4 linked regions of the Homo sapiens genome follow. The protein of the gene in region 4 interacts with the protein of the main gene of each other region in a pairwise test. Each region holds a gene or a part of one and is shown on either strand. Other genes may lie near its edges. The genes, in order: BTBD1, BTBD2, TFCP2 and PSMD5.

Region 1 (7,927 bases), on a different chromosome or scaffold from region 4:
TACTTATACAAACTAAATTTAAGAACCACAAATCTAAAACTATTTTGGGGCAATTTTTTACTTTGAAAAAATATTGAGATTACTAGGATAAGAATGTAGAGGAAAAATACATATTTTAATATTTTCACCGAAGCTGCTAATTAGTGCTTTCCCATCAATAGAAAGTAAGTTAATTTTAGAGTGTTTGAAATGTAGGACAGTGCAATTTTTTTTTTCACATTGTAAAACATTTTTTACATTTTTAAACTTTTTTTTCATTTTTACATTTTCAGTGTGTTTTATTTTCCTAGCATTGTATTTATCCTTCAGGTTCTGGTCATTGTTCTATTTTGAAATTGATATCTGGACTGATTTCTAAATTTAATTTTGGCTGGCTGTGTAACGTAGATGTTGTTGTTAGCTAATACGTGACAAAAAGATGCCTGATAGTACTTGCTAAGTTGGAAGAGCAGGTTAGTTTGGGCATACTTGTAAACATCCTGAATTAGTTAACATTACTTACAGGCTCATGAACTTAAGTTTGAAGCCCTTAAAGAAACTGTGCACTTTGAACTGCCTGACCTTTAAATGATGTTCTTCAGTTGTTTGACAAATACTATATGCCTCCCTTTTGGGGCGCTTGTGAAACAGCGAATGGCTGTTGTAGGTGTTTGGGACACAGCAATAAACAAGAAAAAGTCCTTGCCCTCATGAAGCACATAATCTAGTAAAGGGAAACTAAAGATACAATGTCAAGTACTGATGAATGTTTTGAAGAAAAATAATCAAGTTATGAGAGAAGGAACATTCTCAGCAAGGGAACGCATTGTTTTCGGCACTAAGTATCTCCTGTTGGAGGAACACAAGAGTGAACCAGTGTGCCTTAAGCACAGTAGAGGGAAGTGGTAGAAAATGAGGTCAAAAAGATAGGCCAGACAGGATGGTGCAGGGCTTTAGAGACTGAGCGAAGACTTTTTCAGCTGGTATTTGATGGAAAGCCTTTGGAGAGTTTTGAATGAGATTGGGGAGGCGGAGGTGGTGGCAGGAGGTTGTGATCTGATTTACATTTTAAAAAAACAAACTCTTTCTGGCAGTGGTTGGAGTAAAATAGGCAGCAAGGTGATAGATGAAGAGGCTTTTGCAGTAGTCCAGGCAAGAGGCGATGGTGAATTGTACCTTGTACCAGGGAGGTAGCAAAGGACATGATGAGACATGGTCAAATTCTGGATATATTTTTGAAGGTACAACCAAGAGGACTTCCAAGACATCCAAGTAGTGTCATAGAGTAGACAGAAATATGAATTTGGAGGTGAGGGAACAGCTTGCTGAACATAAATTTGCAAGTTAAGAGTGAATGGTATTTAAATCGAGAGATCAAGTGAGATTACCTAGGAAGGCATGTAGACTGTGAAGAGAGGTACAAGGATGAGCTCTGGAATCTTCAAATATGTAGAGATGTAGCAGAGAAAAAGCATAAAATGAAACTGAGAAGCAGCTGTCAGTGGAATTAGAAGAGAAAGAAGGAGCATTATATTCTGAAAGTCAAGTCAAAACATTTCAAGAAAGAAGAAGTGGGAAATGTCAACTATGGAAAGTGGAAAGTGGTCAGTTATGCTCAATGCTATTGAGAGTCAGGTATAATGAAGACTTTGAGTTGATTTTTAATCTTGACAAGGTGGAAGCTATCGATAACCCTGCCAAGAGTGATTTCAGCTGATTAGAGTAGGTTAGGCAGAAAATGGGAAGTGAGGAGCTGGAGACAGTATAAACAGTCCTCTCAGGAGTTTTGTTGCAAAGGGGAACAGAGAATGACGTGATGGCTGGAAGGGGCACGAGGTAAGTGTTCTTCAGTATTCAGTCCTCAGCTCTCATCCTTTCTCCCATCAACCAAAGTGAGAGCTTTACGCACTCATTCCCCCACATGTGTCTCCAAAGCTCTACTTAGCTCCAGACCCTCATTTCCAACTGGACCATCGTGAAGTAATGTTTTATACCCATGCAGATGGACATGTTATTAATGAAAATATCTGACATTTAATGAGTACTTTTACTGTGTGCCATAGATTGTTCCTAAGCCCCTTTGTGATCTCACTTAAATTTCAGGAAAATCCTTTGAGACAGGCATACTTCTTATCCCCCTGCAATAGCTTTTGCCATATTAATGCTATAAATAAAGCAACCCCCAAAAAGCAATAATTTATTCTTGCTTATGATTCTGTAGGTCAGCTAGGAAATGACTTCATGGGCCTAGCTCCAAATTGTAGTTTCGTTTCACTCCATTCTACACATTTCTTGTCCATTTTAGACCATTCCTGAAAATTTTACCTGCCTCTCCATTTTTTTCTGCATTGCTTCAACCAAACTACTGCGTTTAGACTTAACTCTCTCCATTCATCCTGTTAACAGTGATCTCTCCAATATTGGTATATGGTCATATAATTCCCCTGAATCTTTTAATGACTTCTTTTTACCTACAGGATGTTTAAACACTTTAGCAGGTACATGAAACCTTTGTGATTTGATCTCTCTTTCTTCATCTCCTCTCCATCCACTCAGTGTTTCAACCCTAATTACTAATGGCCTTTTTCTTGTTTTAGTGCCTGCTTCTAAGGCCTCCTTACCTTTGTACTCCTCAGTCTTTCTGCCAGGGCTCCACACTTAATTACTACTCTTCAGATAATCTTCAGGCTTTACTTCCTCTGTAAAAATTCCACCCACAGGCAAAATTGCACACTGGCTCATCTAATTAATCTCTCACAGCATGTTTTGGTTATCTGTTGCTGTGGAACAAATCACTGGAATGCGTAGTGACTTAAACAACTTTTATTATCTTTTACAGTTGTGTGGGTTGACTGGAATCACTTAGGTGGTTTGTCGTCTATGTAGCTGTAGTCAGATAGCAGGTGGGGTTGGACTCATCTGGAGGTTTAACTCACAGTCTGGGATGGCTGAGCCTTAAGTCTCAGGTCCTCTTCAAGAGGCTTCTTCAGCTGGTCTCTCCAGCAGGGTAGCTTGACTTCGTGGCTCATGACTCCGAGGAACACAAAAGCAGGAGCTGCCAGGCATCCTTAAGGTGTAGGTCTCAGACTGGTGCAATGTCACTCTGCCACAATCTGTTGGTTCAAGGGGCTCACACAGGGACAACCCAGATTCATCATGGGACAGATCTATGTAAGGACATGAACACAAGAAAGTATGATTTCTTGGGGCCATCATTAGAGATTAGTTATTAGATATGAGTGCCTAATATATACTTCTGTTATTAGGACATTACTTTTTAATCATTTCAGTACCAGACTATAGTTGCGTGCTGCATAATGGCATTTTGGTGAACAGTGGACTGCAAATAAGATGGTGGACCCATAAGATTATAATACGGTATTTTTACTGTGCATTTTCCATGTTTAGATACACAATACTCACCATTGTTTTAAAGTTGCCTATAGTATTCAGTACAGTAACATCCTGTACTGGTTTGTAGCCCTGAAGCAATAGTCTATACCACATAGCTTAGGTGCGTAGTAGGCTATACCATTGAGATTTATGTGAGTGCAGTCTATGATGTTTGCATGATGATGAAATTGCCGAACAATGCCTTTCTTAGAATGTATCTCCATCTTTAAGTAATGCATGACTGACTGTGTAAGGTTTTTATGGGCAAAGCTATCTTACCCATATTTTTATCTCTAGCACTATTACAGTGCCTGCTATATAGTCCCTCAATAAATGTTTTTGAGTAAAATGAACAGATAAGTAGTGATACAAAGTTTCTTACACATATCTTGTGATCATTCTTATATAAAATCAAGTATTCACCTTAGGCTTTTAAAATTTACTTTATTTTATTTTATTTTATTTTTTGAGATAGAGTTTCACTCTGTCGCCCAGGCTGGAGTACAGTGGCGCGATCTTGGCTTACCCAATCTCCGCTTGCTGGGTTCAAGCAATTCTCCTGGCTTAGCCTCCCGAATAGCTGGGATTACAGGTGTGTGCCACCACGCCTGGCTAATTTTTGTATTTTTAGTAGAGATGGGGTTTTACCATATTGGCCAGGCTGGTCTCAAACTCCTGACCCCAGGTGATCCGCCTGCCTCGGCCTCCCAAAGTGCTGGGATTACAGGTGTGAGCTACCGTGCCCGGCTTTAAATTTTTAGTTAGATTAAATATAACCTAAGTTGTTTTTTTTTTTTTTTGAAAATTATTAATTTGGGGGGAAAATAGGACTAATTTGAGGACATGTAATAATTTTTCTGTGCTCTCGTCCTTAGAGGTTGTATATGAGAGCTTAAATGATCACTTTAAAATACGAAGAATTGTGGTAATGTCATGTTTAATCTTTACATTTTAAAAACCTTGGCTTAGTTTTTTTTTAAATATTATAAAAACTCTAATAATTAAATAGAATGTAAAGGAAATGTATACATATGAATCAAGAGGATTCTTGGATTTTTAAGTAACTTTTTTTATTAGAAATGAAAATATTTTCCCTTTTGACGTTACATAGAAACCTGTGCTGAATTGTCTAGTCAATTAACGTGTATTTATTGAGACTTAAACACATGCCCATAATGTGCCTGGTACTGTTTAAGAAATAAATTAAAAATATAAGATACACAGAGATCCTTTTCTTACTGTTTATTGTCCAGTATTTATTTTTAATTTGCAGTGCACCCAAAAGAACTTAAAATGTCTTATAAGAAACACAAGGGTAAGAAATAAACTAGAGTCAAGGGTGAAGCTAATAGAAAAATGTATGCTGTCAAGCTGGGTACAGTGGCTCAGGCCTATAATCCCAGCACTTGGGGAGGCTGAGGCGGGAGGATTGCTTGAGGCCAGGAGTTTGAAACTAGCCTGGGAAATATAGCAAGACCTGTCTCTACAAAAACATAAAGCATAAAAAAAAATGAGCTGAGCCTAGTGGCATGTGCCTGTAGTGTTAGTTACTCTGGAGGCTGAAGCAGGAGATTCACCTGAGCCCAGGAATTTCAGGATACAGTGAGCTATGATCGTGCCACCACTCTCCACCCGGAGTGACAATGAGACCCTGTCTCAAAAACAAACAAAATGTATAAGCTATAAACTTTTGTTGTTGTTGTTGTTGTTGTTTTTGAGACGGAGTCTTGCTCTGTCGCCCAGGCTGGAGTACAATGGCGTGATCTCAGCTAACTGCAACCCCTGCTGCCCGGGTTCAAGTGATTCTCCTGCCTCAGCCTCCTGAGTAGCTGGGATTACAGGCGCCCGCCACCATGCCGGCTAATTTTTGTGTTTTTAGTAGAGTCGGGGTTTCACCAGGTTGGGCAGGCTGATCTTGAACTCCTGACCTCAGGTGATCCACCTGCCTTTGCCTCCCAAAGTGCTGGGATTACAGGCGTGAGCCACCATGCCCGGCCAACTTTGTTTTAATTATCTGAGCAGCTAGTGCAAAAAGAGAAACCTGGGTGGACGTAATTATTTATAGATTAAAAACAAGGCAACTGCTTAGGAGATGCACAAATCTGATAATTAGATGAGTTTTTAAAAAAATCCTGATGAGATCCCCTCATACAGAAGACATTGCTGTAATGAAGTGTCTTCAGTCTGTGTCTTCAGATACATACTTGTTTTAAAAAATGTTCCTTGATAGAAAGCAAAAGTATATTACTGAAGTATAATTTGATAAAAGCAATTTGAATGGGAGATCTCACACAAAATAATCTACAAACTTGATTCTCTCTTGTTCCTGGAGTGTACTTCCCACCGTCCTTTTAATCTTTAGATCTAATCTCAAGCAGAAATTTCTCTACAAACCTTTTCCACATCTTCCTAAGTCAAAGCCCGCATTTATAGATTCTCATAGAACCATGTATAGGTTTGCGGCACTTGTCCTGTTAAGTGTGAATCTAATCAAGGGCAAATGGTGATAAAGGCCTCACATTGCTGCTCTGTTTTACAACTCTAGTAATTTTTACCTGACAAAAATACATCAAGGCAGGCATGTAAAGACTTCTAGACTGCTACCTTGTCCTTCAAACAAAAATTTCTTTTTTTTTTTAATTAAAAAAAAATTTTTTTAAGTCTCACTTTGTTGGCCGGGCTAGAGTGCAGTGTTGCGATCTCCGCTCCCTGCAGCCTCCACCTCCCAGATTCAAGTGAGTCTCCTGCCTCAACCTCCCAGATAGCTGGGATGACAGGCATGAGCCACCGTGCCTGGCCTAAAACAAAAATTTCATAGTTTTCTAGTTTAAGAAGGGAATTGAGCATGCTGTTAGCATTCTCTCTCTCTCAATTAAAATGACTATTAAGAAATTTTTAAAAAATAGTAAGTCCATTACAATGAAGAGAAAAAGAGAGGTTGGAAGGGCCAACAGAGTAGAAAGGGACAGAGAAGTTGGAAGCTGATTGATGGATGAACTAGAGTAGATGAATCTGGAGCCCAGAATCCAGAGCTTTCAAAGCCGCAGCGGAGCTGGAGCGCCTTTCCTGGCAGAACCCCAACAAAGTTCTTGGCTAGCAGTTGGAAGTAAGGAGGGTGGAAATGAGAAGGTAGTGCTAAAACATGGAAATTAATTTAAAGCCTGTGTATAGACCATCCCCTTAGCCAGCTGTCCATGACAATGGACAGGCTTTTTGAGATAAATTGAACAAACTGCCTGAGAAGAACTGGGACTGCTGGGTATGGCTTTGGGACCCCAGGGTTAAGCTCTCTTCCAATGGCTTTGAGGGGTCCCTGCCCTAGGGCTGGCTTCCCACTCTAATGCCAGGTGCCAGTCAGCAAGCCTCCCACATACACAGAGCTCCCAGCCAACATTTCTGTTTTGGAGATAGTATTATCTTGAAAACAGACCAGCTGCTTAGAATAGTGAAGTTGGAGACGGAGTTTAATCATCTGACATATAAGGAAAAGCAGAACGTGAATGACAGAGACCAAGAGAAACACAACAGCGGATCCTCAAGGAAACAGACGAGAACTTTTAAAACTTTGGTTAATGTCATCTTGGAGACTTCAGAAAGTTTTTGCGTTCATAAAACCAGCACATGGTGCTGTGGAGAAAAAAGGAACGATCAAGAAAGAAGCAAGCATTCTTAGAAATTTAAATGTGATTGCTGTAGAGAAAAATAGGAAGGCACCAGAAGATAATGGCAAGGAAATCTTCCAAAATGCAGAGGGAAATAATGATAAAAAATATGAGACAACATACAGATAAATAGCTAATATTTACTGAGGCAATTTTTTTTGTCAGGCGTTATTCAAAATGCTTTGTGTTTTAATTTATGTTAATCCTCACAACCACATTATGAAGTAGGTGCTCTTATTCTCATCTTTTTAGAGAGGCAGGCATTGATAATAAGTCACATGGCTAGCAAGTGACAAAACAAGCTCAAACCCAAGCAGTCTATTTCCTCTTGGCCTTACTGTATGGCACTGAAAACAGTCAGAAGCCCTGAAATGGTGTGTTATGGTAAACAGCTCTCCTGTTTCCTCAGCCTTGGTTTTCTTATTAAAATGCAGGGAATAGCACCTTCCTTCTATGTGAGAGGATTAAATGAATTGGCATTTGTCATACGGCAGACACTCAACAAATGGTAGCTTTCTCTCTGGTTTTATTCATTCCCCTCTCTTTGGCCATGAGGGACTGTGCCTTACTTAGCTTTTAATTCCCTGTATTCATCACAGAGTTTGCTACATAATGTCAAGTGAGCATTATGAGGGTGATACAGTTGAGGCTGAGGTGGGAGGATAGCTTGAGCCTAGGAGTTCAAGACCAGTCTGGGCAATATGGTGAAACCTGTCTCTACAAAAAATAAAAAATTAGCCAGGTGTGATAGTGCAAACTTGTAGTGCCAGCTACTTAGGGAGCTGAGGTGGGAGGATGGCTTGAGCCAGAGAGGTTGAAGCTGCAGTGAGCCATGCACTCCAGCCTGGAATCGATCAAGACCCTGTCGATGGATGGATGGATGGATGGATGGA
Region 2 (7,808 bases), on a different chromosome or scaffold from region 4:
CTGCACACTTCTCTGGAAATGAATGGAAATCCAGCAATCAGCTTGGTGACGAGCGCCCTCTAGACGCCATCACCGCATAGACAGGGCTGGGATTGGTTCCAGAAACCCGGGGAAAACTCAAAAACGCTCAAAACGCACTGCCAGGGGCAGGTGTTGGCTCAATAGCCAGCAAAAAAAAAAAAAAAAAAAAAAAAAAAAAAAAAAGCACTGACAAAGGACAAAAAGGCTCCGCAAGCTTCCCTTGCCAGCCCTAGGGCTGAGGTGGACTCATGTTTCTGCCTTCATAGATAATCTCCATCCGTAATATGTTTAGGTCTAGTGAGAGGTATGGTTTACTTACAGCGAATGCACAAATCTTAAGCGTAGTTTGGTTAATTTAGGCAAATGCATGAACCTGTATCACTCACACCCCTCTCAAAATCACATGGGCCGGGTGCGGTGGCTCCCGCCTGTAATCCCAGTATTTTGGGAGGCCAAGATGGGCAGATCAGGAGGTCAGGAGATCGAGACCATCCTGGCTAACACGGTGAAACTCCGTCTCTACTAAAAATACAAAAAAATTAGCCGGGCGTGGTGGCAGGCGCCTGTAGTCCCAGCTACTTGGGAGGCTGAGGCAGAAGAATGGTGTTAACCCGGGAGGCAGAGCTTGCAGTGAGCCGAGATCGCGCCACTGCACTCCAGCTTGGGCGACAGAGCAAGACTCTGTCTCAAGAAAAAAAAAAAAAAAAAAAAAATCTCCACATGGCCGAGTGGTTCACACCTGTAATCCCAGCGTTTTGGGAGGCCTAGCGAGAAGATTGCTTGAGCCTAGGAGTTCATGAGCAGCCTGGGCGACAAAGTGAGATCCCGTGTGTGTGTGTGCCTGTGTGTGCGCGCACGCGTGCGTGTGTGTTAGGCAGGGCCTCACTTTGTCGCCCAGGCTGGAGTGCAGTGGCACAATCTCAGCCTCCCCAGCTGTAGCCATCCTCCCACTTCAGCCTCCCAAAAGCTGGGACTACCGGCACACACCAGAACACCTTGTTAATTTTGTATTTTTTTGTGGAGACAGGGTTTCACTATGTTGGCCAGGCTGGTCTCGAACTCCTGAACTCAAGTAATCTGCCTGCCTCGGCCTCCGAAAGTGCTGGGATTACAGGCGTGAGCTACCATGGCTGGCCTACAGCTCTTTAAAAAAAAAAAAGTCCAGGCGCGGTGGCTCACATCTGTAATCCCAGCACTTTAGGAGGCCGAGGTGGGCGGATCACGAGGTCAGGAGATAGAGACCATCCTGGCTAACACGATGAAACCCCGACTCTACTAAAAATACAAAAAAAAAAAAAAAATTAGCCGGGCATGGTGGCAGGCGCCTGTAGTCCCAGCTACTCGGGGGGCTGAGGCAGGAGAATGGCATGAACCTGGAAGGCAGAGCTTACAGTGAGCCGAGATTGCACCACTGCACTCTGGCCTGGGTGGCAGAACGAGACTCCATCTCAAAAAAAAAAAAAAAAAAAAAAAAAAAAAAAATCGTGAACATCTCAGCATTCCGTAAAGTTCACCCTTTCCTCAGACAACCTACCATTTTGTTAATTTCTGTCACCATGGCAGGTATGCCTGTTCTGCACCTTCATCTAGAAGGGACTGCACAGATGTCCTCTTTAGGATTTGGCTGGAAAGATGTCACTTTGCAAATGTATGAGATGAGAGATAAGAAAGTTGACATTTAGAGGCCGGCTGTGATGGCTCCCGCCTGTAATCCCAGCACTTGGGGAGGCCAAGGCAGGCGGATCACCTGAGGTCGGGAGTTCGAGACCAGCCTGACCAACATGGAGAAACCCCGTCTCTACTAAAAATACAAAATTAGCCGGGCGTGGTGGTGCATGTAATCCCAGCTACTCAGGAGGCTGAGGCAGGAGAATCGCTTGAATCCGGGAGGCGGAGGTTGTGGTGAGCTGAGATCGTGCCACTGCACTCCAGCCTGGGCGACAGAGCAAGACTGTCTCAAAAAAAAAAAAAAAAAAAAAAAAAAATATATATATATATATATATATGTATATACATACACACACACACATATAAAATTAGCCAGGCATGGTGGCAGGCGCCTGTAGTTCCAGCTACTCGGGAGGCTGAGGCAGGAGAATGGCGTGAATCTGGGAGGCGGAGCTTACAGTGAGCCAAGATCGCGCCACTGCACTCCAGCCTGGGCGACAGAACGAGACTGTCTCAAAAACAAAACAAACAAACAAAAAAAAATTAGCCTTAGCCAGGCGTGGTGGCGGGTACCTGTAACCCCAGCTACTCAGGAGGCTGAGGCGGGAGAATTGCTTGAACCAGGAGGCTGAGATTGCAGTGAGCCAAGATCGCCATCACTGCACCCCAGCCTGGGCAATAGAGGGAGACTCTAAAAAGAAAAAAGAAAAAAGAAAAAAAAATTGTAACTACCTCAACCACCCACTCTGGAGAACTGAAAATAGCATTATCACTTGGGTTTTTTTAATACCCTATTTTCTTTTTCTTCTTTGTTTTTTTTTTTTTTCGAGACAGGATCTTGCTCTGTTGCCCAGGCTGGAGGGCAGTGGTGGAGTCATAGCTCATCAAAAGCTCAACCTTCCAGGCTCAAGTGATGCTTCCGTCTCAGCCTTCTGAGTAGCTGGGACAACAGGTGCGTACCACCACGCCTAGTTTTTTTTTTGTTTTGTTTTGTTTGTTTGTTTGTTTGTTTGAGACGGAGTTTTGTTCTTGTTGTTCAGGCTGGAGTGCAATGGCGCGGTCTCGGCTCACTGCAACCTCCGCCTCCCAGGTTCAAGTGATTCTCCTGCCTCAGCCTCCCGAGTAGCTGGGATTACAGGCACCCGCCACCAAGCCTGGCTAATTTTCGTATTTTTAGTAGAGATGGGGTTTCACCATGATGGGGTTTCACCAGGATGGTCTCGATCTCCCGACCTGGTGATCCGCCCGCCTCGGCCTCCCAAAGTGCTGGGATTACAGACGTGAGCCACCGCGCCTGGCTAATTTTTGTATTTTTTGTAGAGACAGGGTTTTGCCATGTTGCCCAGGCTGGTCTCCAACTCTTGACCTTAGGTGATGCACCCCCCGCCTTGGCCTCCTGAAGTGCTGGGATTACAGGCGTGAGCCACTGCGCCCGACCTGGTTCCTCAATCTTTGTGGCATTTGTCTACCTTGACATTATGTATGTAGTAAGCGTTTTGGGGGAGTCCCAGCTCCGTCCACACTGACCACCCCCCACACCTGGCCTGGAGAGGGTGCTGGGCGTCTGCTGAGTGTCAGTGCACGTGGCCTGCATCCTGCTCGCTCATCCGCAGCTTCCCGGCCTCAGGCTATGTCTCTGTACAGCGGAGCCTGCGCCACGGAGCAGGCCCGCCACCTGGGTCCGGGGTCTGGGGTCTGGAGTTTGCGCTTGGTCTTTGGGTTGGGGGTTCCGGGTCTGAGGTATGGGATCTGGAATCCGGAGTCTGAAGTCTGGGGTTCAGAGTCTGGGATCTAGGATTCAAGGTCTGAGGCCTGGGATCCCGGACTGAGGTCTGTGCTCCAGGGTTTAGGATTCCCGGTCTGGAGTCTGGGGCCTGGTGCCTGGACCCCAAATTCTGGACCTCGGTCTGGAGTCTGGGCTTCAGGTCAGGATGCTTAGGGAGTGGAGCAAGAGGTCTTCCACCAGCTCCTCCCCTCTACAGGCCCCTCCTACTCTTCCCTCTCCTCCCCGTCCCCTCCCCTGCAACAGCCTCCCCCATTCACCTCCCTTCTCCCCTCCCTCCTCCCCTCCCACCTCCCCTCCTTTCCCCTCCCTCTCCTCCCCTCCCTCCTTCCCCCTCCTTTCCCCTCCCTCTCCTCCCCTCCCTCCTTCCCCCTCCTTTCCCCTCCCTCTCCTCCCCTCCCTCCTTCCCCCTCCTTTCCCCTCCCTCTCCTCCCCTCCCTCCTTCCCCCTCCTTTCCCCTCCCTCTCCTCCCCTCCCTCCTTCCCGCTTCCCCTCCCCTCCCTCCTCCCCTCCTTTCCCCTCCCTCCTCTTTTCCCCTCCCCTCCCTCCTCCCCCTCCTCCCCCTACTCTCCTCCTTTCCCCTCCCTCCTTCCCTCCTCCCCTCCCTCCTTCCCTCCTCCCCTCCCCCGCCCACGCCGCAGCCACAAAATGGCGGCGGGTGGGAGCGGCGGGCGTGCGTCGTGCCCGCCGGGGGTCGGGGTCGGCCCGGGCACGGGGGGCAGTCCCGGGCCCAGCGCCAACGCCGCCGCCACCCCGGCCCCCGGCAACGCGGCCGCCGCCGCCGCCGCCGCCGCCGCCGCCGCCGCCGCCCCTGGGCCGACGCCGCCCGCCCCGCCGGGCCCCGGGACAGACGCGCAGGCCGCGGGCGCGGAGCGGGCGGAGGAGGCGGCGGGCCCGGGGGCGGCGGCGCTGCAGCGCGAGGCCGCGTACAACTGGCAGGCCAGCAAGCCCACCGTGCAGGAGCGCTTCGCCTTCCTCTTCAACAACGAGGTGCTGTGCGACGTGCACTTCCTGGTGGGCAAGGGGCTCAGCTCGCAGCGCATCCCCGCGCACAGGTGGGCGCCCCGACCCCGCCAGCCCTGGCCCCGACCCACCCAGCCTGCTGCCCGGGCCCTGCACCTGAGGCCCTGCACCCCTCTGTCCCCGAGACCCCCGCACCCCTCCATCCCCGAGCCCTGCACCCCTCTGTCCCCGGGACCCCTGCACCCCTGCATCCTCAGGCTCCGAACCCAACTCGGCCTGCACCCCGGGGCCTGCACCTGAGGCCCTGCACCCCTCTGTCCCTGGGACCCCTGCACCCCTCCGGTCCTGAAACCGACCCGGCCTGCACCCCGGGGCCTGCACCCTTCCATCCCTAGACTCCACCCAGTTCCCTGGGCTCTGCACCCCTCTGTCCCTGCCTCTGCACCTCTCTGTCCCCAGACCCCACCAGGCCTGCACTCTGGGCCTCTGCACCCCTCCATCCCCAGGCCCCCCTGGATCCTCCACCTCTGGCTTGCGCCCCCAGCCTGTTCCCCGGGATCCCAGGCCCTGTACCCCTGGGACCCCTGCTCTCCTCCGTCCCTGGACCCACCCAGCCTGCACTCCGGTACCCTCCGTTCCTGGGACCCTCCAACTCGGCCTGCACTTGGAGCCCCTGGGCCCCTCCATCCTCAAACCCCACCCAGCCCGCACCCCAGAACCCTGAATACCCCATCCTCAGGGCCCTCCACCCCCCGCCTGCACCCTAGGACCCTCCATTCTTCCATCCCCAGGACGCTCCATCCCTGGACCTCACCCCTCCCTGCACCCCAGGTCCCCAGACACCTCTGCCCCCAGATCCCTGGGCCCCTCCACCTCCGGCTGGAACCCCTGCCTACACCCCAGGCCCCTCCATCCCTGGACCCCACCTGGCCTGCATCCCTGGGTCCCCTCCATGCCCTGGCCCTGCACCCCCACCCACCACCCCTGGGACTCCTGTGACCCTCCAACCCTGGGACGTGTACCCCTATCTGCTCCTCCATTCCCAGGACCCCAACCCACTGTTTCTAGGACCCATGACCCCACATGCCACACCCCTCCATCCCTATACCCGGGGATCCTCAGGACCCCTCCATCCCCAGGCCCTGCACCCTTGCCTGCCGCCCCTCTCCCCCTGGGACCCCTACTGGTGACCCCTCCGTCCCTGTACCCAGGGACTCTCCAGGACCCCTCCTTCCCCAGGTCCTTCACCCCTGCCCACTGCCCTTCCACTCTCTACTCCCGGGGCCCCCTGGGACCCCACTACACTCAAGTGTGTCACCCCTGCATCCCAGGATGGAGAGACTTCTCCGCTCTCACCTGAGACCCCCCGTCCCCAGTCCTCACCACCTCAGTCCGTAACCCCCAACCTATGACTCCTGAACTCCAGGACCCCTCCCTTCAGGGGTCGTGCTATTTCCTCCACCCCCACCCATGACCACAAGACCCCTCCCTCTTCCCCCACCATCCAGGGACCCTGCCACTCCCACCCGCACCCCTGTGCGCCAAGACCCCTAGGCCTTGCTCCCTGCGTCCTCCCTGCTGCCTCCAGACCCAGTGACCCCCACCGGAGACCCCCAGGCTCAGCACATGATCTGGATCAGAGACCTTCAAACCATGCTGCTCCCCTCCAGGGATACCCCCTGCCCGCCCTGCAGTCCAGATCATAGACTACCATCCACAGCCCCTCCAGCCCCGGACCCCCACCTCAGCCAGAGACCCCTGGGCCCTGCCACCTCCCACTTCAGTGACCACCCACCTCCAGCTCCGCCACTGCCAGGCTCTGGACCCTGGACTCTGCAGAAGGTTGTCTCCCCTGGGCCCTGCTACCCCCTGCACCCCATCCTATGATCCCCTGCCACCAGGCCACCACCCTAGACCCCTGCCCAGACTCCCATCTCCGGGCCCTTCCAACCCAGAGACCCCCAGCTCCGGGGTCCCTCCCTCCCCAGCCCCCAGCCCTCCTTTCTGGGAAAGAAGTGGGTTTGGCCCAGTATCTGTCTTTGCCAGTGTGCGGGGTACCGGCCCCAGGCCCCAGGTTCCCTCCACTCCCCGGTCCCTCTTACCCTGCCCCTCATTGGTCGGGGGCAGGGGCTGGGTTTTCTTGCTGCGGGCACTGGAGGGGGAGGGTCCTGCCCTCCCTTCTGACCTTCGGGTGCTTTTGTTAACGTGTTCTGGCTTCTTCCTGGGTGTTTATGGGCAGCTGGGTCTCCTTTCGTGGGGTCCTGCCCTGGGCGGTACTTAGCAGAGGTTCCTGCCCCTGGAGGGTTCCGGGGCCTCCTACGGCTTGTGCCGTCCGTGTCGCCGTCCCTGTCTCTGTCGTCCTTAGCTGCTGGGCCTCTCCTAGCTTGGAGTGAGGGGCGGTGGGTTTGCTCCCTCCACCTGGGTGGTCTTTGTGCTCTTTGGGGAGGGGGTAGGTTGGATGCAGCTGGAACTCACCCAGCAGCAGGTGCAGCTGGAGAATCCCAGGCTTTCTGTTTGAGGGGGGAGGTGGGGCGCCCCGGGCACCGGCTGACCTTGGGACATGTATGCGATTGCACTTGAGGGACCGCTGGCTCGGTTGCAAAGTGGGGAAGATGGAGGCAGGACAAGGACCCCTTGGAGAAAAGTAGGTGAGGGGTCTGCCCCCGGGGGGCTCAGGAGAGGGCAATGAGGCCCAGCGGGAGATAGCAGCAAGGTAAGGTGGGCGGGCCTGGGACAGCGGACCCTCGACATGCGGGGTTAGGGGCGTGGACCCCCACTCAGCTCAAATCCAAGTACAACTTTTGACTCCCACGAACTTAACTAGGAATGGCTTCTCGCTGACCGGAGGCCTTGTGAGGACACTTGGTCAATGCACACCAGCCTCCTGTTCTCACAATAACAGGCTGGAGAACAGAAAATACATTCAGAAAAGTCTAAGGGGCCGGGTGCGGGGGCGCACGCCTGGAATCCCAGCACTTTGGGAGGCCGAGGCGGGCAGATCACGAGGTCGGGAGATCGAGACCAGCCTGGTCAACACGGTGAAACCCTGTCTCTACAAAAATACAAAAATTAGCCGGGCGTGGTGGCGCACACCTGTAATCCCAGCTACTCAGGAGGCTGAGGCAGGAGAATCTCGTGAACCCAGGAGGTGGAGGTTGCAGGGAACCGAGATTGCGCCATTGCACTCCAGCCCAGGCGACACAGTGACACACCATCTCAAAAAAAATAAAGGACAGGCTGGGCGCGGTGGCTCACGCCTGTAATCCCAGCACTTTGGGAGGCCGAGGCGGGCGAATCATGAGGTCAGGAGTTTGAGACCATCCTGGCCAACGTGGTGAAACACCGTCTCTACTAAAAATACAAAAAATTAGCC
Region 3 (7,907 bases), on a different chromosome or scaffold from region 4:
GACTCGCCTTCCTAAAGTGCTGGGATTACAGATGTGAGCCACCGTGCCTGGTCATATTTGTTTTTGTCTACATCATAAGGGATGTTGAATCTTGGAAAATTTTAAGGAAGGAAGTGAAATCAGGGGTTGATGACTTGTGGAAAAATAATTGATCTTTCATTTTTTCAAGCATATTATCTAAAGGGTGTTTAGAAATTGGAAGGAGTAAGATGATCAGATCAAGAGGTAGTTGAATACCTTTCTCTAAGAAGAACAGAGAAAGGACTTAGGCTAGTTAGGAGAAGGTAATGAGAGAAATAAGATGATCTAGTTTACTGTGTTGGCATTTTTTAGTAAAAAGTATATCTTGAACCTGACCCATTAGACGGTGGCTTTTATATTTTGACTATTTCTAACTTTTACACCAAAGGCCACAAACTCAAATGACTATAGAGTACATACAGGTAATGTAAGTGAATGGCAGTCAAGACTGGGGTATAGTGAAGAATATATGCATCATGTAAGAAGAACGGCTGATTGTTTTCATGTGAGAATGCAGGCCTAAGATTGCTAGATCTGAGTCTTCAGGAAAAGCCAAAAGTTCAGAGGTTTATATGATGTCTCATATTGGAACTAATTCCACTTAAGGAAAAAAAAAACCCTACTACTGGGGAACTAATAAAACATAGCAAATTAATTGCATTTGGCCAATGAGCTTCCAATTTTCATCTGCTCTATACGATTAATGTAGAAACACAATTTCTCCCTTCTTTTTATTGTGCTTACCATAAAGAATGTAAGACTAATTAGCCTTTTTCCTCCCCTTAGGATGGTGCGTCCAAGGTTAACCATTTATGTTTGTCAGGAATCACTGCAGTTGAGGGAGCAGCAACAACAGCAGCAGCAACAGCAGCAGAAGCATGAGGATGGAGACTCAAATGGTACTTTCTTCGGTAGGTTGTTCTGGACACACTAGGACAGATATGAAGAAAGGTGAAGAGATAACTTATGGGCATGTGTGATGGGAAACTATCAAACAGCAGATTTAGTATTTGCTAGAAGTAACAATAATCACTAGCATTTATTAAGTTCCTAATACATGGCAGGTGCCATTCTTTTTTTTTTTTTTTGAGACAGAGTCTCACTCAGTTACCCAGGCTGAAGTACAGTGGCACAATCATGACTCATTGCAGCCTTGACCACCTGGGCTCAAGTGATTCTCTCCCCTCAGCCTACCGAGTAGCTAGAACTAAAGCTACTCATTTGCCTAATTGTTTTATTTATTGTAGAGATGGGATCTCCCTATGTTGCCCAGGCTGGTCTTGAACTCCTGGGCTCAAGCGATCTCCCTGCCTCAGCCTCCCAAATTGCTGGGACTATAGGTGTAAACCACTACACCCAGCCAGGTACTATTCTTAACACTTTTTATATGCTTTAATATTTACAACTAATATCTCCTCTTTGCGGAGGATTTTACTGTTATCTCCGGTATTTATGCAAGAAAAATCAGGCCTAGGAATGTTAAATAACTTGCCCTAGGTCACACAGCTGCAAGTGGTTGAGCCAGGATTTGAACTTAGGCAGTGTGATTTCTGAGTCCTTCAGAAAAGTGGGCATTCCTAGTGATCAAGTTACCTGTAAGAGTGGACAAACTTTGTACTGACTGCTGTTGCTCTCTCCCTTTTGCAGTTTACCATGCTATCTATCTAGAAGAACTAACAGCTGTTGAATTGACAGAAAAAATTGCTCAGCTTTTCAGCATTTCCCCTTGCCAGATCAGCCAGATTTACAAGCAGGGGCCAACAGGAATTCATGTGCTCATCAGTGATGAGGTAGATTTTTCAGTACAGTTGAATTACCAGATGATGATTAATTTGTCAGCGCATGGAGCAAGAGCAGTTCTCCTGGGGCAGAGTGTTCTGTTTTCTAGATCAGAGGGTTTCATACTTTTTTGCTTGCTTTCCTCCTAATTTTTTTTTTTTTTGAAACAGTCTCTCTCTGTTGCCCAGGCCGGAGTGCAGTGGCCCAATCTCAGGTCACTGCGACCTCCTCCTCCTGGATTCAAGTGATTCTCCTGTCTCAGCTTCCCGAATAGTGGGAATTACAGGCGTGCGCCACCACGCCTGGCTAATTTTTGTATTTTTAGTAGAGATGGGGTTTTGCCATGTTGGCCAGGTTGGTCTCAAACTCCTGGCCTCAAGTGATCCACCCGCCTCGGCCTCCCAAAGTGGTGGGATTCCAGATGTGAGCCACTGCGCCTGGTCCTAAAATATTTTAAAAACCACATATTCCCATGCACATTTTTAGGTTGACTTAAAATTTTTTGTTAAAGTTTAAATAGTTGTAAAAGATGTCATTTCTGGGCATATATAATGACATTTTTAAGTGAAATGGTTACATCATTATTCTAATTGCATCCCATGTAACCTTAATACAAAAATGATTTAATACCACCACCATCCATTAAAAAAAAATACATGATTGTGCTTTTCTTTAACAGTTAGAATTCTTATACTATTCCTCTGTTTCCTTGAACTCTTATTTTCATTTACTTCCCCCGGTGAATTTTATCTTACTGTAACTTTTTTTTTTTGAGACAGAGTCTCACTCTGTCGCCCAGGCTGTTGTGCGGTGGTGTGATCTCGGCTCACTGCAACCCCGCCTCCTAGGTTCAAGCAATTCTCCTGCCTCAGCCTCCCAAGTAGCTGGTATTACAGGCACCCACCACCATGCCTGGCTAATTTTTGTATTTTTAGTAGAGGCTGGGTTTCACCATGTGGCCAGTCTGGTCTCGAACTCCTGGCCTCAAGTGATCAACCCGCCTCAGCCTCCCGAAGTGCTGGGATTACAGATGTGAACCACCACGCCTGGCCATCTTACCATAACATATTTTTATGCACAAACATCTTTTATTGATTATCCTACTATATTTGTTTGAAATAAAGTTTTTAAATAAAAATTTAAAAATTATTATAATGGAATTATCATAATTATACAATTGATTAAAATAATGTAAATATGCTACATGTTTTAATAAGTAATTATTAAAGATTAAGAAGGCTGCCCAGGCGCAATGGCTCATGCCTGTAAACCCAGCACTTTGGGAGGCTGAGACGGGTGGATCACAAGGTCAGAAGTTCAAGACCATCGTGTCCAAGATGGTGAAACCCCATCTCTACTAAAAATACAAAAATTAGCTGGGCATGATGGCAGGTGCCTATAATCCCAGCTACTTGGGAGGCTGAGGCAGAGAACTGCTTGAACCCGAGAGGCAGAGGTTGCGGTGAGCCAAGATTGCGCCACCGCACTCCAGCCTAGGCGACAGAGCGAGACTTCATCCAAAAAAAGAAAAAAAGAAGGCCAGGCACAGTGGCTCACACCTGTAATCCCAGCACTTTGGGAGGCCGAGGCAAGCAGATCACCTGAGGTCAGGAGTTTGACCAACATAGAGAAACCCTGTCTCTACTAAAATACAAAATTAGCCGGGTGTGGTGGCACGTGCCTATAATCCCACCTACTCAGGAGGCTGAGGCAGGAGAATCCCTTGAACCCAGGAGGCGGAGGTTGCGTGAGCCGAGATGGGGGCATTGCGCTCCAGCCTGGGCAACAAGAGCAAAACTCTGTCTCAGAAAAAAAAAAAAAAATTAAGAAAAAATTATTACAGGTATATCTATGAATGAGTTCGATGAAATTGTTTCGTTCCCTACCTGTACCCTTGCACATAATTATTTCCTTTGTAGCTGAATACTGCCTATTGATTGCTAGAATGACACAGGATTTCAGCATCAATTCCATTCTGTTTTTTTCCTCTAGATATAAATGCTGAGGGACTTGATTCCCATAAATTGATAGGAATGGATGGAATTTTGTAATGACAATGTCATTAGATTATACTTCAGAATTATATACCAGAAATTACATAGTGATATTACCAAAAAATCATTTTGAATCCTCTGTCTTACGACAATTTGTGATTAGGTTACTCTTTAATTCTGGTGAAAGGAAAGAGTTAGAAACCATGTGGCTCATAAAAGGGTCTATTGCTCAGTTATTAGCGTTCACCTTCGCCATTCCACTTTGCCACCTGAAGCTTTCACATCATGGGCCACCTTATTAGGATCCTGGGAGGGTGAAACTCATGCCTTTATCTTGGGAGAAGGGAGTTTATCCCTGGGAGAAGGGAGTTTGAGAAGGGAAAGTGGGGAAGGAAAATTAAAGAGGTTTTAGGAAAGAGCACATATGGGAGTTGAAGACACGGAAGTCAGTTCTCCTGTATGCACATATTTGTGTCCGTGTGCTCCTTGGAGAGTCTTGGGGTTAACCCAGGGAAATGCATACCAGGCTTTAAAACAACTCTTCCAATCTGCTTAGTTTTTTAATATTTAAAAACCAAATGGGAGGGGAGGAAAAAACTTTTATGATCCTAGATATTCAAGAAATACATTATTTGTGACCTGTAAAGCCTCCCATATAAATCCCTCTGGATGTGGGGTAGTCCTTAGGGACACAGGAATATAAAGGGGTTGTTTTTCATTTAAATAATCACAAATTTTCTTGCATTTTTCAGATGATACAGAACTTTCAGGAAGAAGCATGTTTTATTCTGGACACAATGAAAGGTAATAGTAAGACAAACATCTTTCTCTAAGCAGTTTAACAGCTTTACTACTACTAGGCAAAGTACATACTTCTTTGAGGAGAGATAGGAAAAGTAACCATATTTGGGTAAAGAAAGTGACAATATTAGAGATTGTTCCTTTTTTTAAGTTGGCTTTTTTTTTTTTTTTTTTTTTTGAAACAGAGTCTCGATCTGTTGCCCAGGCTGGAGTGCAGTGGCATGATCTCGGCTCACTACAACCTTCGCTTCCCAAGTTCAAGTGATTCTCCTCCCTCTGCCTCCCAAGTAGCTGGGATTACAGGCACGTGCCACCATGTCTGGCTAATTTTTGTATTTTTAGTAGAGATGGGTTTCACCTTGTTGGCCAGGCTGGTCTCGAACTCCTGACCTCAAGCGATCCACCCACCTTGGCCTCCCAAAGTGCTGGGATTACAGACATGAGCCACTGTGCCTGGCCCAGCTTTTTGCCATTCTCTTCCATCTTCCATTACAGATGAGGAAATTGAGGCATGTTGTTTTTATAATGCATTTTTTTTGAGACAGAATTTCGCTCTTGTTGCCCAAGCTGGAGTCCAGTGGCGTGATCTCAGCTCACTGCAACCTCCACCTCCCTTTTCTCCCCTTCTCACGAGAATCTTACCATACTTTTTTTCTCCTGCTGTGTTTTAGAGGTGACTAAAGATGATTCTCTCTCTCTCTTTTTTTTAACAGCAGAAACCAATGATAGCTATCATATCATACTGAAGTAGGAGTGCGGCGTTTCGTGCCCAGTGGCTGCTCCTTCCTTCACCTCTGAAAACGGCCCTCTTGAAGGGGGATATGAATGGAGATTTGAAGGTCTGCAAGAACCTGACTCGTCTGACTGTGTGTGGAGGAGTCCAGGCCATGGAGGCAGAATCCTGGCCCTCTGTGTTGGCCCAAGCTCTTGTGGTACACACAGATTACTGCCCAATATGCAGTTCTGCAGCTGTTTTAGTTAAATTTCTGGACCTTGTTGTTGTTAAATATCAGTAGAAACTCTACATAATTTAGAGTGTATGTAGGGCATAATGATGATGGGAATTGTGTGATGTTTAACAGGAAGATCTTAAATTTTGTGATATGGAGCCCTGTAATTTTTTTCTTATATAAAAATGGGTATCTATATTCATAAGACTAGGTCTTCAATCTCTTTGTACTGGTCTCAAATGTACTGGTATCTCTGCTTTTTGCCACAGTTTGTCCCTGAAAACTTTATCAGTGAGGAGAAATACAGAATTTTCCTTTTGGTTCCCCTGTAATACCACAACTAATAGTATTTTCAGCTAACATTTATTGACCAGGCAGTGTGATAAATTTTTTGAATGACCATCTTGTTTAACCCCCTAATCACACTATCTGAAGTAGGTGCTATAGTGACCCCCAACCGAAGATGAGGAAATGGAGACACACAGTGGCTAAGTAGCTTGCTAGGTGCCAGGAGCTGGCAGGCAGTGATGCTGAAATCCAAACCAGGCAATCTGGCCCTCCTTATTCACCCTCTCATACCACCAGTGCTACCCATTATAACCTGTGTTCACTTCGCTTATTACTGTGGCCCTTCTGGTGACTACAACATAACACTGAGTATGAACTGAGGAATTAACCACTGAAAGAGACAAAGCACACCTAAATAATGATGAACAAATCAAGACCTACAAGAAATGAACACATAGATGCTTTTTAAGTGTCATTAGTTATCGGAATCAAAGAATTTGAGGTGGTGACAACTGGGGATTATCTGTAACTCCCCAAATTTACTGTTCTTGAATGACATTCTCAAACTATTTATTAATGAGTTAGTCTCATCCCTGCTTTCTGTTTCCTCTCTCTGCATCTTCTCTTGGCATAGGAAGTTATTTTACTCATGCTATGTTTTTTAATAGAAGCTTTACAAAAAAAGATGCATTCCCTTCCTGTTCACACTCTTACCATGTTTTTGTTCTTCCTTAAGAATGATTGTGTGTGTGTGTGTGTGTGTGTGTAAGTGTGTAAGTGTAACATCATGGGTTTTCTTTCTTCACTTGTAAAGTTTTATCTAGAAATACTTTTACAGGTTATGTTGAGGTACACAAAGATAATGTTCTAAGATTGTGTATTGGATTTGGATTTGTGTGTGTGTGTGTGTGTGTGTGTGTTTAAAGCATTTGATAAGGTTTAAATGTTTTTTATACAGAGATTTTTGTTCATTAAACTCAATCTGCATCATGGTCTAATTTCTCTTGGTTTGAAACAAATTGAAAACTTTGAAACCAAAAAATTAAGTCAATGACTTGTTTAAAACTGACCTGAGCAACTTGTTATATTACACCAAAATGCTTCTTAGTGAATGATTACCAGGTGTCTCCATTTTGAGGAGGAGACGTATCTGGTTGTCTTATATTCCTAGTACTGGTTCTCAACCTCAGTTCTTTCCTCAGCAGGCTGCTATTGGTTTGGATTTTTTTTTTTTTTTTTTTTTTTTTTTTTATGTCTAGGTGTTTGGGTAGGAAAGTTGGACTAGATGCCTTTTTCTTTTTTTTTTTTTTTAATATAGAAATGAGTCTGGGCACCGTGGCTTATGCCTGTAATCCCAACAATTTGGGAGGCTGAGGCAAGCAGATCACTTGAGGCCTGGAGATTAAGACCAGCCTGGCCAACATGGTGAAACCCTGTCTCTACTAAAAATACAAAATTAGCTGGGCGTGGTGGCACACACCTGTAATCCCAGCTACTTGGGAGTCTAAGACATGAGAATTGCTTAAACCTGGGAGGTGGGGTTGCAATGAGTTGAGATCAGGCTGCTGCACTCCAGGCTGGGTGACAGAGCAAGACTGTCTCAAAAAAATTTTTTTTAATAAAATAAAATATAGAAATGAGGTCTCACTGTGTTGCCTGCCAGGTTGGTCTTGAACTCCTGGGCTCAAGTGATCCCCCGTCTCATCTTCCAAAGTGCTGGGAGTACAGGTGTGAGCCACCGTGCCTGGCCAAGACTAGGTGACTTTTTTGTTTTGAGACGGAGTCTCACTCTGTTGCCCAGGCTGGAGTTAAATGGCCTGATCTCAGCTCACTTGCAACCTCTGCCTCCCGGGTTCAAGCAATTCTCCTGCCTCAGCCTCCTGAGTAGCTGGGACTACAGGCACGGACCACCATGCCATGCTAATTTTTCTATTTTTAGTAGAGATGGGGTTTTACTATGTTGGCCAGGCTGGTCTTGAACTCCTGACCTCATGATCCACCCACCTCGGCCTCCCAAAGTGCTGGGATTACAGGTGTGAGCCACCGCACCTGGCCCAAGGCTAGGTGACTTTTA
Region 4 (8,919 bases):
CCCAACACTGGTTCCCAGACTGGCTAAATGTGACTTATCTATACAAGTCTTTAAAAATTCAGAGACCTGGGCCCCATCCTCAGGGCGACTAATTGAATAGATTGAGGCTGGAGTTCAGGGATAGACCGCATGGCCAAATTTGGGAACTATGACTACAGATGGTGTGAGCCACTGAGGAAATAACATCACTGGGGAGAAAAAGGTAGCTTTCATTATATAGCTTATATGACCTTGAGAATGTATATTATGTCTCTCTCTTTTGAGGGTGTAAGGGAGAGAGGGAAGGAAATGAGAAACATGATCATCAGGGAAAGGAAGACGTACGACAAATCCTGCACAGCTAGTGCCAGGATGCTAAAGTATTGTGATGAGGGAAATGGTGCAGACCAGGCTTCTAAAGTGAAGTTGTTAATGAAATGAAAGGTAGACAATACGCAGAAGCAGCCTGTCATATATGCTAAACTGTCTGTTTTCTGGAGAATCCAAAAGCATTGGAAACTGTTTTCTCTGATATCCCTAGTTGGTTTACTCAAGGATAAAATGCCCAGACTTCCTTCCTAACAGCAGGCTAATTGATTTAACCAAAGAATGTGCAAACAAGATATACTGTTCCTAAATTATGCAGTTTTTCCTTCCTTCTCTATACAGTCTATTTTTGCTTTTGTTGGACAACATCCCACTGATCGATCGATCTCTGAATAAAAACACTGAAATGGACTGTTGATTATCTAAATGCCTTTGAGTTATTCTGACAATTCCTTTAATTCAGTGTTCTTTACACCAGCCAGGACCTGACCCTAGCACTCCCCACACTCCCCCCACTCCCCCTCCAATGGCAACAGCAAAACTCACAGTGAAGATGCCTTGAGTAGGATGTTCACAGAGGCAGCCAGCTCCTTATCCAGCATGGCCCTGAAGCAAAGGCACAGGGTGGCAGTTACTGGAGCAAGTCCTGGGGTCTCAAGAAAGGGGAAGGGGATGGGGTTCCAGGGACTTACCCAGGAAACCTGACTCTAAGTAGACAGGCTTTTAGCATTCCCTCCCCTTACATCCTCCCTGCTCAAACCAGCACATTCCATAACTATCAGGCACAAAACCTCTGAAGATAAGCTGTTTGTAAGTCCTTCTCTGGGTGAGGAGAGAAGCAGGGAAGCACCTATGGGAAGGCAGTTTGAATAACAGGCCCAGTCTGCTTAGAGAATGGGAGTTAACACTGAACCAAAAATAAGAAGACCTAGGTTCCATTCCCCGTCCTGCAGTAACATGGCTGTGTGATCTTAAGTTCCTTCTTTCATTCTAGTAAGAAGTATTCAAGCACCTACTCTGAGATAGGCCCTTTCCCACCTCTCAACTTGAATCTCCTATTGGTACAAGAGGATTGGTTTAGCTGGTGGTTTCCAACCTTTTTCACTACCGAGAACTTCTTTTATTATGCCACCTTCTGCTGTTAACTCTCAGAGATGCATCTGGTTGATGGGTGCTTTGATTTGTAGATACCCATGTGACCGCACAGAGCTGATACAACTCCAAAGCAAAAGCAAAAAAAGAATCATATCCTGTGTTCATTTTGGCAAATACAAGCTCTTTTCACTTGTTATTAAAGGTTTCTACCACAGCCCTAACAGCATAGTCATCTCCTTTACAGACCTCTAAGATTTTTTGACTGACTCCAGGCTGAAATGCCTTGTCAGATGTTGTTTGTGTGTGTGTTTTAGAGACAGAGTCTTGCTCTGTCACCCAGGCTGGAGTGCAGAGGCACAATCTTAGCTCACTACAGCCTCGAACTCCTGGGCTCATGCAATCCTCCCACTTTAGTGTCCCAAGTAGCTAGGACTACAAGCATGCACCACCATGCCTGGCTAACCTAAAAAAAATTTTTTTTTACAGATGGGGTCTCATTTTCTGGCCCAGGCTGGTCCCAAACTCCTGGCCTCAAGTGATCCCCCTAACTCAGCGTCCCAAAGTGCTGGGATTACAAGTATGAGCCACTGCGCCTGGCCCAGATCACCTTTAATATTATACTGGATTTCAATCTCAGTCTGATTGCTGTGCATAGAATTGGTGAACACAATAAATTGTGTCTGAACTAGTACACGTGTCATAGAAATAGGAGCACCATCAGTGCAAGGAAGAAGTGTTCCCAACCATCCAAACTGCAAGCCCTCAGAGTGTAGCAGGCCCTGACAAATCTTCCTCAGATCTCTGACAGCCAAAGGTCTCCATTCCATGAAGTGCTTGGACCCTGCCAAACAAACCTTATCTGAGCCCTGCTCCCTGCTCTCTCCTTCCCTCAGCTGCTGCCAAGAGAATTGACCTACTCTGTCTTCCCTCAGGTTGAACACTGCTGAATTTAAGGGCTCCATACTAATGTGACATTACCGCCACCATCATCGTTCCTTTGGAAAGTTCCAAGAGGTAAATAAGTTCCTGACTGTGAAGAGTGACACATGGCATGAATCTGCTTTTGCAATTGCTGCCAGTCTTACTCAGTCACCCACTGAGAAATTATATTTTAGTGGTTCTGGAGGTGGCATGCAAACACAGGCAGAGTTACACCTCTAGAAAAAAGAATCCCATTGTCTCACAGGCCTTTCCCAGTCTCTTTGAGAGTGTAGACTCCTTGGGGACTGATCACAGCAACCTGAAAGATTACAGAACTGTTGAGCATTTGGTTATTCAAAAAGCCCATAGGGCTATAGAGTTGACTGAATGTAATTTTAAATCACACACACACACACACAAAACCAGCAGTGAGTCATCCATGGGGTGCCCAGGTTCTAGGAAAGCAGAAGACAGATGTGTAGAGCTACTAGGATCTCTAAAAACTGCAGCCATCACAGAATACTGGCTCACAAACCAGATGCATAGATCAGCTCTCACAGCATTTTTTTTAAATTCTTGATTTTGTTAACAAAATTTCCTTTTTTTTTTTAGTCAGAAAAAAAAAATTTCTTTTTTTGTCTCTCTGTCAACCAGGCTCCCCTCAGACTCAGATTCTGTATCCATCACCTTCACCTAAATGACATCCTCTTCTTCATGTCTTCCTTCTCTTTCTTCAAGTCCTTTGCTTTATTTTGAAGGTTCTTTTGCATCTCTTCATAGGTATAAGCAATTTATTGAAACCTTTTTTAAAAGTCAGGCTTCAATCCAGGAAAGGATCCATATGAATTGTAGCATCAGACAGCATTCAATTTCCTCTGCAAAGACTTCTTCCTATGGAAATAGACTCTCAGTGATGACCAAAGACAGAAACTTGAGTAGCTCATTAATTTCACTTTCCCTAATATCAATAAATCTTAAACCCACCTGTTTTGCAGACACTAAGATTTTTTTTAACTTCTTCATTAGCTCTAGGGAAATATGCATCATTCACACATCCTCCCACAGTTTCCAGCAAGCTTAAGAGTGGCTGATTTTATATCACCCATCACCTCTTTTATCACTACCAAAGCATCGGCAATATTGTACTGTTGCCATGCTTCTTTCAGAGTAAGGTGAGGGTTTTTTCAATACAGTCAGCAAAGTGGTCAAACATATGCTTGATTATGTTCAAATGCTTCAGTTATACCCTGACCCAAGGGCTGAAGAAAGCTAGGGCCTTCCTGAGGGAGAAACACAGTATCAACATTAGAATGAACAAAGAATAATGAATCTGGGTGATTGGGACCTCTGTCCACAGTTAGCAACATTCTGATTTCCAGATTTTTTTTGTTAAATGACTTCGGATTTGATGGATAAAAAAATTGTAAAACTAATCCAAAAAGTGGCAGTGGTGATTCTGGGTGTGATTACAAGAAAACAGGAAGGCGTTTATCTCTAAAAGACAAGTGGGGTGTTAGAGTCTTTGTAAAGCAGCAGTGGTTTTATCATTTTGTCACCTGAGGCACTGCCACAAAAAAATGAGGGAAATCCTGTCCTTAGCTTCCTCTAAGCTTTCCAGATTTTTGTCTTTTGCCCCAAAAGTAGGAAGGCATGCACTGCAAAAGATGGGTCATCTCCTTGGCGTTGAAGACCTGTTGAGGCACAAAGCCTCTCTCCAGTTGCTTGGAATACTCGATACCCACTCAGGATTTAAGGGTCCTTCCTCCCCATCAACTTCGTATGTTGCAAAACAGCAGCGATTTTTAAAGTTCTCAAACCATCCCTTGCTCGCATGATACTTATTTGGGTTGTCCTCCCCAGATGTTTCCCATTGGTTCCCTGTAGATGTATTTGGCCTGGTTGCAGAGGGCCTTCCGGGTCAGATGCCGCCCTCTGTCATCTGGCCTTCCACCTAAAAGGTTAACTGGGTCTCCACCTTCACGATGTTTACATTACAGGGGAATACACAGCAGCTTAGAGCAGATGGGCGACCAACTCTCCACGCTGGTCTTTCTTGGTTTCCTGAGGGTAGTGGAGGACAAGAGGGGAAAGCAGGGTCTTGCTCTGTCGCCCAGGCTGGAGTGCAGTGGCACAATCACCGCTCACTGAAGCCTCGACCTCCTAGACTTAGGGGACCCTCCCGCTTCAGCCTCCCGAGTAGCTGGGACTACAGGTGCGTGCCACCACACCGCACTAATTTTTTTCCTTTTTTTTTTTTTTTCTTTTTGGTAGAGACGGGTTTCTCACTATGTTGCCCAGGCTGGTCTCGAACTCCCGGGCTCAAGCGATCCTCCCGCCGCGGCCTCCCAAAGCGCTGGGATTACAGGTACGGCCACTGCGACCAGCTGCTTCTCCTTGGTGGACTGATCAACACCAACAAGGCGGCGCACGTCCCTATTACTCACGCCTTCGTCAGGCTCCTGGAGAATATTCATCCAGTCTTCCAGAGGCATGACGCTCCGCCTCCTCTTGACAGGTGGCTGGCCCAGGATCAAGATTCCCCTCCAGGCCACCGCTCCACCTGGGGAGGCCTCAGCCGCGGCCGTAGCCGCGGTGGCCTCCATAACGGCTGCAGTCGTCCCCGCCTAGAGCCTGGTTTTGGAGCCTCGAGGACGCCGACGAGGCTGTTTAACTTCCCGTGAGTCCCCACCCTCGCCGCTCCGCTGGCCGGGAATTTGGCAAGGCTTTGCCCTACGCGGTAAACACGTAAGCCTACTGGCCTCCGCATTTCCCTGAGCAGCGACCTAGATGACGCCAGACTGAGGGAGCCGCAACCACTGGCTACAGTTGACACGGCCCTAACGGAGGCTTCTCGCGAGGCTTGGCAGCCCCATAGCCATCTCAGGGACAAGGAGGCTGTGATCAGATCTCGCGAGGTTCAGGAAAGCGCCCCGGGAACTGGGCCGCTGGGCCAGCCCCTGCGTCGGGGGGCAAGATGGCAGCCCAGGCTTTGGCGCTGCTGAGAGAGGTAGCGAGGCTGGAAGCGCCGCTGGAGGAGCTACGCGCGCTTCACTCCGTGCTGCAGGCAGTGCCGCTCAACGAGCTTCGCCAGCAAGCGGCGGAGCTGCGCCTCGGCCCGCTCTTCTCCCTGCTTAACGAGAACCATAGGTGAGAGGACCCCGGGGGCTTGAGCCGAGGAGAGGGGCACCCCTAAATATGGACATGAGAGTGGTTGAGGGCAAGAACAGCGCTTTTCCCAGTCACAGGGGAGGTGGAAAGTAGCCGAAATTTGCAGAGAAGGAAGGATCCTGGGTTCAGAGGCAGGAGATGGGGTTCAGGTTCAGCCTCTGAGAGTGCCCCAGGGTGTTTTCTCCCGTCGCCTGGCCTCGCTGCCTCTGAGCAGTGAGGCACTGCCTTCTTCATCAAATAGAAATTAAAGGAGGAAAGCAAAGCTGTCCACTTACAAGGAGCATTCCACATCTCTTTGTACAGGTTCTTGATTTGTTTCCCCTTCTAAAAGGATCCTATCCTGGCAATGTGGCAAGAACCATCAGCATTTTAAATTCACATGCTTTTTCATCCAGTCATTCTTGTTAAAAAAATTTAATGCAAGTATACGCGCACAAAATGTGCAGTTACTTTGTTCTTTCGAACCCGAGGCTGGAATCGCCCCAAAAGCAGCGGCAAGAGAGTTCCCACGAGGGAGTGCTTCAAACCTTCCCGAGATGTGGCTGGTTGGGATGACAGAAAAAGAAGCACTGAATGCCAAGGCGATCAGTCCAAAAGCGTTTAGGGGGAAACCTGCAGAGGGCTGCAGAAATTGTCAAGACGGACACCGGGAGAAAGGTGTTCCTGGGTATGTCCGCAGTGAGGGGGTCAGGGTATGGAGTTCAGATGAGAGTTTAAAGGAATTTGGCTCAGGGTTGAGGCCAGTTTCTTCCAGTGTTTTGGGCAACAACCTAGGTACCTTTATCAGGCCTGTGAATGTTCAAGGCCCCTGGTTTATGGTCAAGCCTGCTAGGGAAACCTGCCGCTGGCTAGGTCAGAGAGCAATCAAGGCACTCTGATTTTCCATCAGGACAGAGAAAGAAAGGGGGCGACTGGAGGACCCTACAACATTATATGCAAGAATATAACATATCGTGTGTGGCACCAGAACACTAGAAACAATCTAAATATCCGTTAACAGAGGATTCCAAATTATGCGCTATTACTCTGTAACACTGTGCAGTTATTTAAGTTATTGAGGTAGATGTATATATATGTATGTGGACATGGAAAGATCTCTGTGTTTTGTTTTGTTTTGTTTTGTTTGTTTGTTTGTTTTCAGACGAGTCTCGCTCTGTCTCCCAGGTTGGAGTGCAGTGGCGCGATCTCGGCTCACTGCAACCTCCGCCTCCCTGATTCACGCCATTCTCCTGCCTCAGCCTGCCGAGTACCTGGGACTACAGGCGCCCGCCACCACGCCCGGCTAATTTTTTGTATTTTTAGTAGAGACGGGGTTTCACCATGTTAGCCAGGATGGTCTCGATCTACGGACCTCGTGATCCGCCCGCCTCGGCCTCCCAAAGTGCTGGGATTACAGGCGTGAGCCACTGCGCCCGGCCAATCTCTGTGTTGTTGAATGAAAAAGAAAATCGCAGGGTATATCAATCTATAATTTTAACCTGTAATTTTTAAAAAGGATTACAATCTTCCCAACCCCCACAGGCATGTAAAACTTGTATAACATTGCAAATATCTGCAAAGGTACACCAGAAACTATTAATAGGGAAGTGGGTCTGAAAATAGTAGGACAACTTTTATTTTTGATTTTTTACACATCCGTAGTGTTTGATTAAAAACACTTTGTAGGCCCGGTGCAGTGGCTCACGCCTGTATTCCCAACACTTTGGGAGGCTGAGGCGGGCAGATCACCAGGTCAAGAGATCGAGACCATCCTGGCCAACATGGTGAAACTCCGTCTCTACTAAAAATACAAAAGTTAGGCCAGGCACGGTGGCTCACGCCTGTAATCCCAGCACTTTGGGAGGCCGAGGCGGGTGGATCACAAGGTCAAGAGTTCGAGACCAACCCGGCCAACATAGTGAAACCCTGTCTCTACTAAAAATACAAAAATTAGCCGGGCATGGTGGCACGTGCCTGTAGTCCCAGCTACTCTGGAGGCTGAGGCAGGAGAATCTCTTGAACCTGGGAGGCAGAGGTTGCGGTGAGACGAGATCGCTCCACTGCACTTCAGCCTGGGCAACAGAGTGAGATTCCGTCTCAAAAAAAAAAAAAAAAAAGCAAAAATTAGCTGGGCTTGGTAGCGCACACCTGTAGTCCCAGCTAGTTGGGAGGCTGAGGCAGGACAATCACTTGAACCTGAGAGGTGGAGGTTGCAGTGAGCCAAGATTGCACCACTGCACTCCAGCCTGGCAACACAGTGAGACTCCATCTCAAGATAATAATAATAATATAATAATAATAATAAAAACACTTTGTAGACCGGGAGCAGTGGCTCACACGTGTAATCCTAACACTTTGGGAGGCTGAGGCGGGTGGATCGCTTGAGCTTTGGAGTTTGAGACCAGCCTGAGCAACATGGTGAAACCCTGTCTCTACAAAACAAAACAAAAAATTAACTGGGCGTGCGTGCCTATAGTCCCAGCTACTTAGAGGGCTGAGGGGGAGGATCCCTTGAGCCCAGGAGGCAGAGGTTGCAGTGAGCCAAGATTGCACCACTGCACTCCAGCCTGGGTGACAGAGTGAGGCCCTTTTTTTTTTTTTTTTTTTTTTGAGACGGGTTCTCGTTCTGTTGCCCAGGCTGGAGTGCAGTGGCAGGATGTAAGCTCACTGTAACCTCGCCTCCCAGGTTGAAGCAATTCTCCTGCCTCAGCCTCCTGAGTAGCTGGGACTATAGGCACGTGCCACCACCACAACGCCCAGCTAATTTTTTGTGTTTTTAATAGAGATGCAGTTTCACCATGTTGGCCAGGCTGGTGTCGAACTCCTGACCTCAAGTGATCTGCCTTGCCTGCCTCGGCCTCCCAAAGTGCTGGGATTACAGGCATGAGCCACTGCGCCCAGCCAAGACTCTGTCTAAAAAAAAAAAAAAAAAAAAAAAGATTAAAAAAACATTTTATAATTCTTACCTGGATTCTGGGGAAAAAAAGGAAAAAAAAACCACTTTGTATTTGATAATTTGATCATTTAAAAGAGTTTTGAAATGTTTGTGATCAAAGACTTTCAAGTGACCTTACTACTTGAAAAGATTATGAACCACTGAATCAACAGTGGATGATTTCAGAGCGCTTTCTTGGCTCTGACCTTCTAAGATTCCTTCCTTTTCTGTAAGTGTTCTCCATTCATGATGTCTATCAGTTAACATTATTTGGGTCTGCCTATGAAATGTCTCTTATTTGTCTCCTCTTTAATTCAAGCCCTCATTTTTTCCCTATTGCTAGGTCTGTAGTGTTAGTCTGACTTCTCCTTACCTCTGAAATTCCTTTTCTAGCAAATTCCTTTTCTAGCAAATTCCTTCCCACCTTGTAACCCCAGTGAGCATACATCTCGAGTCAGCTGGTGCTAATCTTTTCCGTGGTTTCCCATTGCCTGTAGTGAGTTTTTAGAATGCCA

What was found.
Region 1: the proteins of PSMD5 (region 4) and BTBD1 interact in binary tests that used the Homo sapiens proteins (3 or more experiments, as listed by UniProt).
Region 2: the proteins of PSMD5 (region 4) and BTBD2 interact in binary tests that used the Homo sapiens proteins (3 or more experiments, as listed by UniProt).
Region 3: the proteins of PSMD5 (region 4) and TFCP2 interact in binary tests that used the Homo sapiens proteins (3 or more experiments, as listed by UniProt).

What each region holds. Positions count from the first base shown.
Region 1 is NC_000015.10:83,056,706-83,064,632, reverse strand, and holds part of BTBD1 (BTB/POZ domain-containing protein 1), read left to right. Parts: intron 1-2,787; exon of another isoform or gene 2,788-3,146; intron 3,147-7,927.
Region 2 is NC_000019.10:2,012,016-2,019,823, reverse strand, and holds the start of BTBD2 (BTB/POZ domain-containing protein 2), read left to right. Parts: upstream 1-4,109; 5' UTR 4,110-4,120; coding exon 4,121-4,527; intron 4,528-6,105; exon of another isoform or gene 6,106-6,277; intron 6,278-7,808.
Region 3 is NC_000012.12:51,092,680-51,100,586, reverse strand, and holds the end of TFCP2 (alpha-globin transcription factor CP2), read left to right. Parts: intron 1-807; coding exon 808-932; intron 933-1,668; coding exon 1,669-1,811; intron 1,812-4,546; coding exon 4,547-4,598; intron 4,599-5,308; coding exon 5,309-5,346; 3' UTR 5,347-6,931; downstream 6,932-7,907.
Region 4 is NC_000009.12:120,839,287-120,848,205, reverse strand, and holds the start of PSMD5 (26S proteasome non-ATPase regulatory subunit 5), read left to right. Parts: upstream 1-5,283; 5' UTR 5,284-5,296; coding exon 5,297-5,469; intron 5,470-8,919. UniProt on the Homo sapiens protein: Acts as a chaperone during the assembly of the 26S proteasome, specifically of the base subcomplex of the PA700/19S regulatory complex (RC).